Linked DNA regions of Homo sapiens: region 1 is linked to region 2. Evidence: fine-mapped expression QTL. A gene starts in region 2. The other region holds a variant in brackets. All regions are shown on one strand. Distances are from middle to middle.

Region 1 (5,368 bases), 22 kb after region 2:
TATCAGTCCGCATGGACTCAGTTGTGCTGCAGTAACAAACAATCACGCAAGTTTCAGGGACTGGAATCTCACTTTGGAATGTGAGAACAGGTGGCAGCTCTTATCATAGACCCTCAGCTAAAACTGAGATGGAAATAATTGCATTATAACAGACCGTTACAGATGTTTGATGAATAGAGCATTCCATGGCCAAATACATTCAAGAAATGCACTGTGGATCACCCCTGTAATCCCAGCCCTTTGGGACGCTGAAGTGGGCAGATTATCTGAGGTCAGGAGTTCAAGACCAGCCTGGTCAACATGGTGAAACCCCATCTGTACTAAAAATACAAAAATTAGCTGGGCATGGTGGCATGAGCCTGTAATCCCAGCTACTCGGGAGGCTGAGGCAGGAGAATCGCTTGTACCCAGGAGGTGGAGGTTGCAGTGAGCCGAGATTGTGCCACTGCACTCTAGCCTGGGTGACCGGGCGAGACTCTGTCTCAAAAAAAAAAAAAAAAAAAAAGAAATACACAATGGAAAAATAAAAGGCAAACAAGATTCTTTCATTGAGCCTTCTCTCCAAGGTGGGAAGAAGAGGCCTGTAACGTCCTATTGTCCTATAGCTCCTGGACCCTTTCAGCTGGAGCATCCCCCGTGACAACTGGGGAACTCCTGTTGCCAGATGCAGGATGGTGGACGTGAGAGAGGCAGCTGGAGCCAGGCAGAGTTTCTCCACCCTGTGTCTTCATCTTAGCCTTTCTGCCCTCTTTCTTCCTTAGAGTTATCTGGCTGTCTGCTCATCTGGTCATAAACCGTTTTGTTCATATTAGGCCATGAGAAATGTGCAGTTCTTGGGTGGGGGGAGATGAGGAGGGAGGCTGGGGATTTTGCTTTTGAAGAATGCAAGGAAAGGACAAAGTTGAATCTAGTGATCTCACTTTCTTTCTCTTTTGTCACCATCAAAGCTGTGATTTGCCACTTAGCCCCCTCGAAACAGTTTCGTGGTTTGCTGGAGTTACTTCTGAGCAGATTTATTTATGATCAGAAGGAATATTTTATACCAGGAGGAAATTAATTCTGCTCAGCCTTCCTGCACATTCCTTTGACATGACAGGCTCCTCTTTTGAGGGCTGTTTTAACCTCTAGCTTCTCCCTTTGATATATTCAGGAGGCCCCAAAAATGCTGAGCCATCATCCTCACTCCTGATGGCCTTGCCATCATTCTGAGAACTAAAAAAGAATTAAATTGCAGTGGAAATGGTCACAGAATGCTCTTTTCTCTTTGGAAAGCTAATGTTAATTTGGAGTGAGATTTATGTAGGAAGCTTAAGGAATCTGTTAAAAGAAACATTGAGTTGATTTTCTAATTGACCACCATGTTGCATTTACATGTGTGACATCTGCAGATGCTCCAATAGTACGACTACACACATAAAGCTTTAGTGATTTGGTGATTGCCAAAAAGGCAGTATTTTTTCTGATTGGCATAATTTCTACCTCCAATTTACTGGAACACTGGGCATGACTGAGACGCCTTTTTAGTGATGTCTGCTGTTCTGCATGTTCAATAAACATAAAATTGAGAGGCTTGGCCATGGTTGTGTATGTGCAGCATCTGTGATCCAAGTGGAATTTAATGGTGGAATTGGGGCTTAACAATGGAATCCTGGGAGTGATATTTGGGCCTCAGGGCCCTTACTCTGCAGAAATGAGTGATGGGGCCTGTATTAGTCCATTTTCACACTGCTGATAAAGACATACCTGAGACTGGACAATTTACAAAAGAAAGAGGTTTATTGGACTCACAGTTCCACATGGCTGGGAGCCCTCAGAATCATGTCAGAAGGTGAAAGGCACATCTCATATGGAGGCAGACAAGAGAAGAGGACTTGTGCAGGGAAACTCCCCTTTACAAAACCATCAGATCTCGTGAGACTTATTCACTATCATGAGAATAGCAGGGGAAAGATGCGACCCCATGATTCAATTATCTCTCACTGGTCTCTCACACAACACATGGGAATGATGGGAGCTGCAATTCAAGATGAGATTTGGATGGGGACACAGCCAAACCATATCAGAGCCTATTCATATGGAGCCGACTCTGTGTGTGTGTGGTGTGTGTGTGTGGGGGGGGGGGGTGGTGTGTGTGTGTGTGTGTGTGGGTGGTGTATGTCTGTGTGTTTGTATGTGCGTGTGGGCAGTGTGTGGGGGCAGTGTGTGTGTGTGTGTCTGTGTATGTGTGTGTGTGTGGTGTATGTATGTGTATGTGTGTGTGTGATGTGTGTGTGGGGGGGTGGTGTGTGTGTATGTGTGTGTCTGTGTGTGTGTGGTGTGTGTGTGTCTGTGTGTGTGTGTGTGAGTAAGGTTGTCAAGTTAGCAACTGGTCAGGCTCCTCCTGGGCTGGTCCCTGCCTGTCTTCAACACCACCTGGGTGGTCCCTGCCTGTCTTCAACACCACCTAGGTGGTCCCTGCCTGTCTTCAACACCACCTGGGTGGCGTGTGTGTCTCACGGCTGTTATGCTGCCTGAGCCTGTGTGTGACTGGAGCAGGAGCTGGCATTTCTCCAGCCCCTGTTGTCCGCCAGGTGTTTTGTGATGCTTTCTAATTGTTTCTCCTGGGAGCCTCCTCGCAAGCTGGTGCTGGGCTGCACTTTTGGCCAGCCTCGGTGTGCTGGCCAGTTCAACTCAGGAGCCTTCAGCACTGAGGGCCAGCCCCAGTCTGCGGTGTCTGCCCAGGACGGCCAGTCCCTGCCAATCCGGCAGGTCCTCAGAGGCCAGGCTGAGCAGCTGGGGCCTTGCAGCAGGACACAGGGTCACAGCTGGACCCAAGCAGAGAGCCTGCTGGGCCTGAGTGTCCAGGTGTGAGGGAAGGGCTTCCTCCCTCCAGAGAACAGGGATGCAGGTTCCAGCCAGGTAGACCTTCCTGCTTTGTGAGTGTGTCCAGAGCAGGGAGAGTTTCACCCACAAACCCAATATGTGACAGGAGCAGCATAGGGCATACCCACTCTGCTCACTCAAAGGATCCCCAGGAGCTGCTCTGGGGTGCCTGAATTCTCACCATCACAGGCTGGAGTGCAGTGGTGCTATCTCGGCTCATTGCAACCTCCGCCTCCCAGGTTCAAGCTATTCTCCTGCCTCAGCCTCCTGAGTAGCTGGGACTACAGGCATGCACCACCATGCCCTGCTATTTTTTTTCTTTCTTTTTTTTTTTTTTTTTGGTAGAGACGGGGTTTCATCACGTTGGCCA[G/C]GCTGGTCTCAAACTCCTGACCTCAGGGGATCCGCCTGCCTCGGCCTCTCAAAGTGCTAGGATTACAGGCATGAGCCACTGCGCCCGGCCCATCAGTTCTTTTTCACCATCAATCCACGTCTGACCTTTCCTGTGCCTAAGCTGTCATAGAGGGTAAATGCAAACCAAACACACTTCAGATGGAAAACACCTCACCCTTCTCCCAATTCTCAAACCTTGACTCACTTCCCATAGCACATGGAGGAGAATGCTAGCATCTTCCCACAACTCGCTCCACCTCTCCTCCCACCCAGCCCTTCCTCCTTCACTGCTAGTTGCCCTGCTGGTTCTAGAACATGCCTTGGAACCTTCTCCCCCAGATACCTACATGGCTGTGTCTAGGACCTCATTCCAGTCTCTACACAAATGTCACCTCATCAGAGGCCTTCCCCGGCCACCATGTCCGAAGAGACACCCAGCCCTACCCTCACTTCTCTCTCTATCTGCTTCCCTTGCTCCGAGGCTCTCTTGCTGCTCAACTGTGGATTATACATTCATTTGTTCCTCATTTCTCTCTGTCACGAGAAAGAAAACCTCAGGTGTTTCCCCACTGCCACAACAGTGCCTGTCAATAATTGAGCCCTCAGTAAATACCTGTAGAATGAAAGGAAGAATCTTTTCAATGGTGGAAGTAACTCAATACACCCATGGTCCTCCAGTGGCGGGACCCTAGTGCTTCTGAGGGAAGGAAGATGCTGCTGTGGCCAGATTCCAGGAGGGAAGGGAGAGCATGACCCCCAGCCCTCAGGACAGATGGGGCGTGGCTGCTCCCACCATGGCTCACTGAAGTGCATCTGATACACCGTGTTTGCCACTCCAAAGTTTAATTTAGCTGATGTCTTGGCTGTGAGCAACAGCTGGTAAATTTAGTTGGGGGATTAAGAAACGTATAAGATGCATAGCTCCTTAAAAGGAGCTGGATGTCAGGGGAAAACGAAAGCCAGGTGCATCCTGAATTTGGCTGTGAAAGGCGGGGCAGCCACCTTCTTGGAGCAGGCCAAGGGGCTGTGTTTGCTGAATCTTCTGAGGGGCGGCATCTCCACATGGAGGTGGCGGAGGGCGAGCCTGGGGACACATCCAGTGGCTGCCATGTCACCTAGCCACCCAGGAAATTCCTTCAACCTGCTGGCAAGGATAGGGACAGCTCTGAAGACATGAGTCTGCCCAGAAACCATAAACAAATAGATTGACAAACATTACTGTAGCAAATTAAAACTTGTGTGAGAGTTAAAAAAAAATGCCATGGACCAAGTTCAAAGCAAACAACAAAATGGCCAAATAATACTTTCAGACAAGTGCTAGAAAAAAGACCAATGCTGTTGATTTACAAATAGCTCATAATCAATAAGAAAAAGATGAACAGTCCAATAGAAAGGAGGGTCCTAAGGCACAGACAGGAGGCCAATAATACAAATGCAAAATACAAAAGGCCAATAAATGTATGAAAATATACTCAGCCTCCTCTGCCATCAGAGAAATACAAACCAAAATCAGAGACTTTTTTAACTTATCAGATGGTCAAAAATGTTTAAGTACAGTTGTATTCAGTGATGGCAATGAATTAAGAAAATGTAAATTTCTATTTTAGGAGGGAAATTTTGAGATTTCCATCCAAATTAAAAATGCACATGTGGCTGGGCATGGTGGCTCACGCCTGTAATCCGAGCACTTTGGGAGGCCAAGGTGGGTGGATCCCTTGAGGTCAGGAGTTCAAGACCAGCCTGGCCAACATGGCGAAACCCCATCTGTACTAAAAATTCAAAAATTAGCCGGGCATAGTAGCAGGTGCCTGTAATCCCAGCTACTTGGGAGGCTGAGGCAGGAGAATTGCTTGAACCTGGGAGGCCGAGGTTGCAGTGAGCTAACACCACTGCACCCACAGTCCAGCCTAGGTGAAAGAGCAAGACTCCATCTAAAAAAAAAAAAACAAAAGAAAAAGCTGCACATGCCCTTTGTTCCAGCAATTCCACCACTAGGAGGTAAGCCTCCAAATATTCTTTTATTTTTAATGTATTATATGACTTTATTATATGAATAAATGTATGAATAGTCTCCCAAATGAATGTTCATTTCAAAATACAAGCACACCTCCTTTGA
Region 2 (5,368 bases):
TCGTTAATTTATCCAACAAGTATTCACTAAGTGTCATTTCTGTGTCTGGCGTATGCTGGAAAGTGGGGTCACAGTGGTGATCTTCGGAAGGCACTGGAAAAAATAAGGAGGTCACGGGCTCCGAGAGAGACCACACAGTGTGATGGGCCGTGGAGGAGGGCACTCAGAAGCTGTATCTGCCCACCTGCGGTGAGGGGAGGAGAGGGGAGGCTTCCTGGTGAAGGTGATACCTGGAGGACAGGGGGAAGTCAGCCTCTGTGAGTGTGTGTGTGTGTGTGTGTGTGTGTGTGTGTGTGTGCATAAGTGTGCATGCATGTTGGATGTAAGTGGGTAGAACGTGAAGATTCTAGACAGAAGGTACCCTTGTGAGATGGTTTAGGGGAGAGACAGGATGGGTGGGGAAGTCCCTACTTGAAAGGCCTCTCCCTACACCCACCCCCCGCTTCTCTTTTTGACAAAACTCAAGGCTTTCTTGGCCAGAAAGTGACATAAGGCAACCTGAGTCAGTAGACATGGCCGGGTGGCTGAGGGAATTATGGTGGGAGATGCTTTTGCAGATGGAGGCATGCATTTTCCTAGCCACAGCCTTCTCCTTCTCTGCTTTTCTCCAAGGACCCCTGGACTCTCAGAGGTGGTTCTGCATCCCTGGCTTGCCTAGAAATTGCACCAGCCACACTAGTACCAGAGGGCTGGGGGCTGCAGGAAGGTGGAAAGTGTCTTTTAGACAAATGAAAATCAATGAAATACTCAAGTGAATGCTTTCTGCCCTGCCTATGGTGTTAGGCAGCAAGAAAACTGCCTCTTCATTTGCATTAAATTATTAAGTAGCAACATTCCATTAGCAATATTAAGTGGCTATCATTTAACCTAGTTAGTTGCACTTTCAGCTGAGGGTTTTACTCTTCCGAAGCAATAGCACCAGGAAGCCTTCTCCCCTGGTGCCCTGGGTCGGAGCCCTGCCTTCACGCACGGTTACTTTCTGTGAAGCAGGCAGAGTGAAAGGCAGGTCTGATGGACACTTGGAAGCTAGAGTCCCAGCCCCCACTCCCTCTCGTGCAGCCGTGGGCTGGGCAGCCCCTGCAGGCCTCCGCTTACCCCAGCTCATCCTCCTCGATGAAGCCACTTTTGTCCTTGTCCAGCATGTGAAACACCTTCTTCACATCATCCGCACTCTTTTTCTTCAGGCCGACCATTTGGAAGAACTTTTTGTGGTCGAAGGAGTCGGTAGCTGTGGGGGGAAGAGCAGGGTCAAACAAGGACCAGAAAGGCTGGTAGGGAAGCCTGGGAGAATGGGGGGCATCAAGGCATTTGTTGATGGATTCCCACATGCCAGTCATGGGGAATGAGAGGTACCCACCTCCATTGGAGGGCTGAGGGAGCCCGGGCAAGGGAGGATAACCTGTCCAAGGTCACAAGGCTGGGAGTGGAAGAGGTGTGCTCAAACCCAGACCTCCCTGGCTCTCAAGCCCGCCCCCACGCCCCACCTCCACTGCACCCATTGCTGATGATGGGAGCAGCACCTAAGAACCAAAGGCTTTTGTTCTTCTGAGAACCTTGTGCCCAGGAAGACTTTTGAGTGCCAGCTGGTTGGGAGTGGGCTGGGGAATTGAAGGGGGCATGAACATGGTCCTGGGGTTAGGGGGAGGAGGGTTGACCTTCTTTCTTGGCCACAGACTTTGTTGCCAGAAAATTGACATAGAAAGGACAGGTTTCCCTCAAGGTCATACAGTGGGAGGAGGAGGGGCAAACCCGGAAGTCCTGGCTCTGCGCAGAAATCCACTTCGGAGGCAGTGGGAAGGGGGTGTTAGGAGGCTCCCGAGAAACACCCAGTTAAGTTTCTTCCCACATGGGCTTGAGGTGAAGGGAGAGGGTTATCCCAGGACCCTGGGAGGGTGGCTTCCCAGAGAGGTTCTTGTGCCCAGGGGAGGGGGTGCAAAGCAGAAAGGAAATGGGGGTCCTTTTCTACCTGCAATTTTCTGTATCTTGGGGTCCTGTTTTAGAACACCTGGGGAAGGGTACAATGTTAGATCATGTATTTTGTGTGTGTGTGTGTGTGTGTGTGTGTGTAGGGAATGGCTGTTGAAGTCATGTTCTCTTCCCCTCAGCACAGGGCTAGAGACAAGGAAAGTTGCCCTGTCCACCTCCGACACTAGGCTGGGCAACCCAGTTCTAATACCCCTTCTGCCCAGCTAGGTGACCTTGGGCAAATGTCTTGTCCTCTCCAAGACAGTTCCCTGATTTCCCCATCTGGAGGACAGGGGAGGAGGAAGGCGGGCAGCTTAGCGCTGAAGTCCCGGGCAGCTGGGAGAGGTGAGACTGCCAGTTCCCCTCCCCTGCCCGCCTAAGGAGGCTGGAGGTTTGAGGCACTGAGGATGCCCCGTGCGGGCTTAGGCAGAGCTGTGCGCCGGCTCCAGAAGGTCACCTCGCCCGCAGGTCCGTTGCTGAATCTCAGTAAAGGAACTAGGACAGTCAGGGGGCCAACAAAGGCTACCGCCTGGCGGGAAAAGTCCTGTCCAGAATGAGGGTCCAGGAAAGGGGTCTCTTGGAGAGGAGGATGCCCCCTGCAGTCCCCTCTAAGTGCCTTAAAGAGGACGTCCAGAGAGCTCGTACAAGGACCCTGGAGGTCTCTCCTCCGACCCTGGTCTTCGCCCTTGGTCCCGGACCCTGAGTCCTCCCAGCCACCGGGCCTTCAGCACCCTCAAGTTTCTGTAACTTAGGCGGGGCGCCCTCTTCCCCGCCCGCTCCCCGCGCCAAGCCTCGCCCGGACAGAGTTTGGGAACTGCCAAGGACGCCCCCGCCCCGACCTCGCCGGCGCCCAGCGGGAAGTGTGGGCAGAAGCGCGCTGGGGAGGATCCGCCGGCTGCGGGGCCGGCGGAGTGCAGGGGCGCGGGCGGTGGACGAGGGGAGAGGGATGGGGAGGGGAGCGCGCTTGCTCACCGCTAAAGGCTCCCACCGCCTTCTTGATGTCCTCAGCGTTCAGCAAGTCTGTCATCGACATCCTGCAACTGTTTGAGCGGGCAGAGCAAGTGCGAAAAGATTAAAAAGTGCTTTTCTCATCATTTCTGCTCATATGACCAGCGCTGCAGTGCTGCGCGCCGGGCGCACGCCCGCCGGGCCTGGCATGGCGCCAGGGGCCCGGACTCTGAGCGCAGCGGGAGCGGCTCAGTCCAGCCGCGCCGCTGAGCAGCGCCGGCCGCCGGCAAGAAGGCGCGCGGACCTGCTACCACTCCTGCACCGCCAGGCCAGGGGTCCGCGGGATCCCAGGGGCTGCGGCCAGGGCACGAGGGAAGGGGCCACCTCTGGGATTTAGGGGGCACTGGCGTCACCAGCTGGGTCTGGAAAGTCCACCTGCCGTCAAGGACACGCAGGAGGTGCGCCGTCTCAGATCTGGGAACCTTGGCGGATGTCCTGCCGCGTGGGGGAAGATCCTGAACCTTCAGCGGCCAGCCTGCACCTCAGGACCTCCTAGGCCCTGCTCCCTTTCTCTCTCCACTCCTACCTCAGCCTCTGCTCTGGTCTGTCCTGGATGCAAATTTATGCTGCAAAATCTGAGCGCTGAGGTCCTGAAACCTGACCCACCCGACGCAGGGAGGAGGTGGCAGGGACAGGGACAGGGACAGGCAGGAGCTGCTGGGGCCCACTTCGGGTGCCCCATCCCACATCTGGCCAGGGATGCATATTCTAAAACCTGATTTGATGTTTTACTTTTATTTTTTATTTTTTTGCTGGCTTGATTTTTCGAAGAACACTTCTCAGATCTCTACTAACTACTTGCTTTCCTGGTCTCCTGGGTCCTGGCATCATGGGTCCAGACTCCCCCTACTCCTATAAACCTTTTTTGGGCAGAGTAGGGTGGGAGAGTCCGCTTGGAATTGCTATGCTCCCTCCCAGAAAGCCCCATATGTGTTTGGAAGAAGGGTAGCACCTTCAGACCACACTTTCTAGACAACCTAAGCAGGTGTAGGGGTCTGAACTTCACCTCTGGAAAAATGTCACGGTGCCTATCTGTATGCAGCCAGAGACCCGTTGTGTTCTTCCCCATGGTTCCCAAGGTTTCAAGCTGCAACCAGCTGCTTCTAGAGTGTGTGAGCGCTGGACAGGGAGTCAGGAGGCCTGGGTTCTAGATCCTGGGCTGCACTAAGTCCCAGTGTGACCTTGGGTTGTGACCTTCTCTGGGCTTCTGTCTCCTTCTGATGTGTTGATGACGTCAGTGGTCCCATGTAGTGGGACCTGGGGACTGCAACTTAAGGTATTGGCAGGTAGGCAGGGCCTTGGGCTGTGGTGGCCCTGGGTGGTGGGGACCAGGGAGAGCAGCTGTCCAGCTGCCCAGTAACTCAAGTTCCCTGACATCGCTGTCAACATTGTCTCCTGCAGCTCAGCCCTGGATGGCTGCCCTTCCTGGAAACCTTAGGATACCTCTGCTGGCTCCAGCTGCCCCCTCCCTGTGAGTCAGCTCCTTCAAGCCACAGCCCGCCAGATGGCTTCCAAGGCACCAAGGATGCAGCTCCTGACCTGATGCCTCTCAGCTCCAGGACTTCCCAGGACCCCTCAGCTGCCCTGGACCCTGCTGCTACTGCCGTCACCTCTGCACCTTGTCCCCAGCTGGGCTGCTGACTCAGATATGCCAGGCTCCTATGCTATCATTTCAACTCCCAGGCTCAGCTCACTCCAGGAGCCTAGTTGGAGAATGGATTTCCCCAGCTGAAGGACGCTTCAGCTATACCAGTGGAGAAACGGAGGCACAGAGTCCGTGAATGGTCTAAGGACACATGGTAAAGCAATAGCAGAGCAGGGTACACCCCTGGACTCACTCGTGTGGAGTTCAGTGACTCTCTGGGTGATCCTCCCTGGTGCCTGGGACCCAGCTCTATCAGGTCCCATACATCTCAGCCACACACTGGCTCCTGGTGAGCCCCTAAGCAGCTACCCTGTGGCAAAGGCTGCAGCCTCAACAGGGGCCCACTCTTCTTCCATCTCCTTCCTCCATCTCTCCCTGCTGCTGAGTTCTCCTATCAACTTGACACCCCCTCCGGGACTGAGCCCTCCCAGCCAGAGCATCAATGTCATTAGGTCAGCCCATCAGCCCTGGGTAGTCCTCCTCTGCCCTCTGGGTCCTCTCTGATGGCATCACCAGAGTCCACAGATGTCTGACTCCAGCCCTCTCGTTCTAAGGCTGGGGAATCTGAGGCCCAGCCACGGGGGGCGGTGGGTGGGGGGAGTTTGCCCCAGGCCACACCAGGAGTCTGGGTGGAGAAGCAGGAATGCATGCTCTCAGCCCTACATTCCACAGCTGCCCTGCCTCCAGCACCCCCACCGCACCCCCCTCCCCGGGTCACTACGGACAGGGGAGATGTAGCTCTCCCTTCCA

The links. PIP is the estimated chance that this variant, and not a neighbour inherited with it, causes the effect.
Region 1: its variant is the best candidate, but not a certain one, in a credible set for the expression of PVALB in lung (TOPMed, PIP 0.85).

The regions. Positions count from the first base shown.
Region 1 is chr22:36,836,087-36,841,454 of GRCh38, forward strand. No RefSeq gene overlaps it. Among named protein-coding and RNA genes, the nearest start is that of PVALB, 22 kb to the left of the region's middle. The variant G/C (reference allele first, on the strand shown) is at 3,233.
Region 2 is chr22:36,814,008-36,819,375 of GRCh38, forward strand. PVALB (parvalbumin) reads right to left here and starts at 3,028. Exons shown (of 4, transcript NM_001315532.2): 1 at 2,938-3,028; 2 at 1,096-1,228. The coding sequence starts at 2,998.